Regions from separate parts of the Homo sapiens genome. Here region 1 is linked to region 2. Evidence: fine-mapped expression QTL. A gene starts in region 2. The other region holds a variant in brackets. All regions are shown on one strand. Distances are between the middles of the regions. Region 1 overlaps PHRF1 (PHD and ring finger domains 1). Region 2 holds the start of SCT (secretin).

Region 1 (2,998 bases), 21 kb after region 2:
TCTGCCCGTGTGCCTCGCCCTGGCTGCCCGGTGCCCTCCCTGCCAGTCAGTCGGCTGATGCAGGCACTGGGGATCTCAATGCTCTGCCCGTGGGCCGGGGCCGCATCCCGTCTGCCACCACCGTCATCTCTCCTGATCTTTGGTATCCTGGGTAGCTCAGAGATGTCTGTTCTTCTGGGCGCTGGCTTCAGGGGAGGCCCCGGCACCACACTGCGACATGGGGGCTTAGAATCTCTGCTTGAGATCTTAGACGCGGCAGAGGCAAGGGGCAAGGTGTGCTTGTTGGTGCCGTTGAACCAGGGGCTGTGGCTCTGTCTGAAGCCAGGCACACTCCCATTTGACAAGTTCCGAGCCTGAACCGCCCCAGGGGCTGCTGGCAAGTCCAGCCTCACAGGCGCCCCCGCGGTGCGGGCGGGGGTGCGGGACCTGCCTTGACAGCTGAGCCCTGTGCTCTGTGGCCTGTTTCCTGACGGGCCTTGGGCCGGGCTCCCGGAGGGCAGTGCTCGGGGCTGCAGGCAGCCCTTGAATCCTTCTTCCCCTCTGGACAGACTGCCTGAGTTTCGCTGAAAAGAAACTGGAGCTAAAAAACAAAAAAGTCAATGGCAATCATTTCCCACCCACTCTTCTTAAATGTCAGTGGTTTAATTTTTATCACAACTGGTTTTCTGTGAGGTCGTGCGCTTTAAACTCCTGTCTGCCTGTTGAGGTGGACACCTCGCCTTTCCACACCCGGAGAGCTGCTTCAACAGCCACTCTGTGGATGACAAAGTACAGTGCCTGAGGCCATCAGGACACGATATTAACCAGGGGCGGGGGCAGTACCCCATCAGGACATGTTCTTATGAACATGAAGCTGTGGGGCTGGGTAAGAACTCGGAGCTAACTGAGAAACTGCTCAAGAAGGGAAATCAATGCAGAAAAATGGCTGAGGAATGGTCCCCCCAACTTCAGCTACATCTTCCGTGACTGAGACATGGGCTGAGTGCTTGCGAACAGCCTGAGGACCAGCAGCCCACAGAGGAAGGGGCCGTGGCAGGGAAGGCACTCACCCGCCCTCTTGGCGCTGAGGGAGCCGTCGCGGTGGATGATGACATCACTGCTGCCCAGCATCAGGAGGCTCTGGCCCGACAGGATGCTGCCCAGCAGGTCAGGCACTGGCTCCTCCTCCAAGTCTGGCTCTGGCACCGCGGCAGGGAGGCGCCTCCTGTGGGCACAGACCCAAGGCCCTGCCGTCACTGCCTCCCACGGCCTGAGGGCCCGCACCCAGGCAGAGCCCCGCAGCAGGCGGGAGCCAGGGAGAGTGGGGCTGGGCCGGGCCTGCGCCTCCCCCACAGCCCTGGCTCCGGCTGCTGTTCTAAGAGGTGCTCACCGGGGCCTCCCAGAGG[G/C]AGGGAGGGAGGGAGCCCCACCTCGCAGCTCTGGCCCCAGGGAAACCAGGCGTTTTTGGGAGAAGTCACCTCTGGTGCCTTTGCCACCCCCAACTCCACCAACAGGTGGGAGGGGGCAGACAAGCACCTTTACCTGTTTTGTTGGTTTTGGTTAATTTTTTGTTCTTGTGGCGAAACAAAAGAACTGGCCAAAAGGTGACCTCTGATGACAGCCTTATTCACCAGGGCCACTGCTCCTGCCCGAGGCGGTGTCCCTGTGCTGGTGGCTCTCAGGCCGGGGTGGGGGGCAGAGGGGCCACCTCGTGGAGCTGCAGCAACTCCCAGTCCACGCTCACAGGCAGGCCGTGGCCTCTGACACAGGATGGGCTGCAGCACTGCCTCACGCCAAGGGCCGACTGATGAGCATGACAGCTGAGGGGAGGTGCTGACGCCACCCAGGGCCACAGAGAGCCAGGCTATCACGGCCCCACCCTAGAACTCCCATCCGATGCCCAACTGCTGCCCCCACCTCCCCAGAAGCCTCTGCCCTCACACACCTGGAAAGCCCCACGGAGACGGGCCTGGCCACGGGCTGGTGGGACTGCAGGGCTGACCGGGACAGAGCCCGTCTCTTGGCACTCAGAGGGGAAAGAGGGTTTGCAGAAAGCTCTTCACTGCTAGAGGGGAGGACACAGGCCAAAGGGAACAAGTGACTCCCAGCTCCCAGAAACCCCAGCCCAGGGAGACGGCACGGAGGAGGATGGCCGAGCACTGGCCATGTGGCGGCACGTGTGATTCGGGCCCCGAACCAGACCTCTGAGTTCCACGCCACCCACCTGCACCGTATGGCGGTGGGAGGAATGGCCACCCTCACTCTCAAACACAAAACCTAACGCCTCCGCATGCACCTCGGGGCCCCGTGCCCACAGCCCCCAGGGAGAGGAGCGGGTGCCCAGGCAGGACCATCACCAGTTCACTCACCTGTCGAAGGGATCCAGCTCATAAGGATCTCCAAACAGAGACAGAGAGGCAGCTCCAATATCCGCTCTCAGCAGCCCCAAAGAGGGCTCCACTGGCTTCAACACTGACGGGATGCAGCTGCTGTGAACAGGCCTGCGCAGGCCCAGCGTCCGCGCGATTCGAGAGCGAGTGGTGGCTTCACTCTGAATCCAGTAACAAAGAAAAAGATGAACAGAGAGACGGGGATGGCATCTACGAGGGCTCTGTAAATGCCACGTGAAGCCTTCATCAGCAACAGTGAACACTAGAGCCGGAAAATACTAAGCCAAAGTCAATGGGCTTCTCAGGCATGATGACCGACAAGCAGGAACAATGCCGCACACATCGGCCGTGAAGCTCCTGCAGGCTACCAGAGGCTCTCGGGCATTGCAGTGTCACCATCACGTCGTAGTAGCATTAAGTGAAAACTCACAAAGAGGGAAACAAAAAATTCAACTGATGACTGACAGTAAAACCCCTTGATGGCTCACATCTGTAATCCCAGCATTCTGGGAGCCCAAGGCAGACAGATCATTTGAGGCCAGCTTGAGACCAGCCTGGCCAACATGGTGAAACCCCATCTCTACTAAAAATACAAAAATTAGCTGGGCCTGGTGGCGGACGCCTGTAATCCC
Region 2 (2,701 bases):
AATATTGTGGCTGATTTAACAGACGGATACAGTGCATGACTCGCAACCACAGCAGAACATCAAAGGGCTTGACGGCCATTTCTCCGTCCACTCCATGATGTATAAATGGCTCACAGACACTTGAGAACATGCTCCACATCGCTGGCCATTAGGGAGATGCCAATCAAAACCGCAGCGAGACACCACGTCGCACCCACCGGCATCGTTAGTACGCGACAAACAAAAAGCCACAAAGTAGCAAGTGTTGGCGAGGACAAGAACCGTGTCCCTGCTGCGCTGCTGGGAAGACAGTTTGGCGTTTCCTCAGAATATTTAACACATAATTACTCTGTCACCCAGCAATTCCCTCATAACTATACACCAAGAACGCTTGAAAACGGGATCGGGAAGCGCCGTTTGCACACCCACGTTCACAGCAGCGTTACTCGCCGTCGCCCCAAAGGGGAGGCAGCCCAGGTGTCCATCAAGATGCCCACAGATGAGCGGACGCGGTCGATGCGGTCCCTGCACACAGCGGGACACAGTTCCCCACAAAAGGGAAGGAGATTCCCACACAGGCCAGGCCGCGGCGGCGAAGGCGGAGGATGCTGCGCTGAGAATCCAGCCGGTCTCCAAAGGACAAATCCCGTGAGGCTCCCCCTGCGCGCAGTCCCTGGAAGCGCTGAATCCACAGACAGAAAGTGGACGGGGCGCCGGGGCTGAGGAGGGGAGGGGGCGTTTGATGGGGACAGAGCTTCATTCTGGGAGGACAGGAGAGTCTGAGAACGGATTTTGGGAGGACGGGAGCGTCTGTGAACGGATTTTGGGAGGACGGGAGCGTCTGTGAACGGATTTTGGGAGGACGGGAGCGTCTGTGAACAGATTTTGAGAGGACGGGAGAGTCTGAGAACGGATTTTGGGAGGACGGAAGAGTCTGAGAATGGATTTTTGGAGGACGGAAGAGTCTGAGAACGGATTTTGGGAGGACGGGAGCGTCTGTGAACGATTTTGGGAGGACGGGAGCGTCTGTGAACGATTTTGGGAGGACGGGAGCGTCTGTGAACGATTTTGGGAGGACGGGAGCGTCTGTGAACGGATTTTGGGAGGACGGGAGCGTCTGTGAACGGATTTTGGGAGGACGGGAGCGTCTGTGAACGGATTTTGGGAGGACGGGAAAGTCTGAGAACGGATGGTGGGGATGGATGCACCGAATGATCCTGAATCGCGCACTTCAAAGCAGATAAAATGGCAACACCGGCCCCCCAACAGTCACGCCACGCTGAAGCTGGAGACGAACTCGCCCCAGCAAGGTGCTCCAGGGGCCTCCGGAACTCCGGCCGCAGCCCCTTCCCCGGGGCCCCCCAGTCCCCCCCCAAACCCTCCCCCAAGCCCTCCGGCCCCTCCGCCCCCGCAGGCTCCGAGGCTTCGCGGTGCGGTTCCCTCTGCGGGTCCCAGGCCCGCGCTCCGTTCGCCCCCCAGGCCGGGACGTCCCCCTCCCCCAGCCGGCCGAGGGGCGCCAGCGCGGCGGAGGGGGCGGGAGGCCGGGCCGGGGCGACAGCTGGGGGGGCGGCCCTGACCTTCCCGGGATCGCTGGGCGCGGCCGGGCCGTCCCCTTTCCGGGCGCCGCCATAAAGGGGCCTTGCGGGGGCCCGGGGCCGTGGCCGCAGCGCTCAGCTCCTGCGCCCCGACCCCGCCATGGCCCCCCGGCCCCTCCTGCTGCTGCTGCTGCTCCTCGGGGGCTCCGCCGCGCGCCCCGCGCCCCCCAGGTGAGCCGCCCGCCAGGCCCGCCCGCCCCCCGGGCCCCACCCGCCCCCAGTGCGCCCTGACCCCGACCCCCGACCGCCCGCAGGGCCCGGCGACACTCAGACGGGACGTTCACCAGCGAGCTCAGCCGCCTGCGGGAGGGCGCGCGGCTCCAGCGGCTGCTACAGGGCCTGGTGGGGAAGCGCAGGTGAGGCCGGGTGGGGTGGGGGGTCCTGGCGTGGTGCCCCAGCAGCAACGCGCGACCCCCCAGCTCCAGGACTAACTCTGTTTTGGGGCGGGGGGCAGCGAGCAGGACGCAGAGAACAGCATGGCCTGGACCAGGCTCAGCGCGGGTCTGCTCTGCCCGTCAGGGTCCAACATGCCCATCCTGCAGGCCTGGTGAGCACCCGCCCCACCGCAGACCCCACTCCAGACCCCACCCCAGACCCCTCCTTCTGTCCTGGCCTCCCCGGGTCAGCGCTGGTGGCCACTGGAGGCCCAATTCCAGCAGCGGGGCCGGGGTCTCCAGCCCCAGCCCTCAGACCCTCACGTGCTGTCTCTGCAGGATGCCCCTGGACGGGACCTGGTCTCCCTGGCTGCCCCCTGGGCCTATGGTTTCAGAACCAGCTGGCGCTGCTGCAGAAGGAACCTTGCGGCCCAGATGAGGAAGGAACCCCCTCACCACCTGCCCGGCCCAGGAGCGCAGCTGCATTTGGGGTGGGGGGCAGGATGGGGGAGAGGGGGAGGGGTGGTACTTGGCACCAATAAAGGAGGAATCAGACCCAGACGCTGGGAGTTGTCTGTGTCCACTCAGTGTAATCGAGGCAACCCCTGTGTAGCGGGGCTGAGGGATGGATGGAGGCCCATCCACCCAGGAGGGACTGACCACACCCAGCTGCCCTTTACACCTGCAGGCACGGCGGCCCCTCATCCTTATCTCTGGCATCAGGGCCACCTCCTGTACCTCGACTAAGTACTG

The links.
Region 1: its variant is fine-mapped to the expression of SCT in putamen (GTEx, PIP above 0.99).

Annotation. Positions count from the first base shown.
Region 1 is chr11:604,648-607,645 of GRCh38, reverse strand. It overlaps PHRF1 (PHD and ring finger domains 1), which reads right to left. Exons shown (of 18, transcript NM_001286581.2): 11 at 2,346-2,527; 12 at 1,922-2,041; 13 at 1,050-1,204; 14 at 1-580. Among named protein-coding and RNA genes, the nearest start is that of IRF7, 9.8 kb to the left of the region's middle. RefSeq lists an enhancer at 2,369-2,987. The variant G/C (reference allele first, on the strand shown) is at 1,386.
Region 2 is chr11:626,117-628,817 of GRCh38, reverse strand. It overlaps SCT (secretin), which reads left to right and starts at 1,637. Exons shown (of 4, transcript NM_021920.4): 1 at 1,637-1,745; 2 at 1,829-1,930; 3 at 2,029-2,121; 4 at 2,288-2,509. The coding sequence starts at 1,675. The coding sequence ends at 2,387. RefSeq lists a silencer at 1,715-2,009 and an enhancer at 1,603-2,103.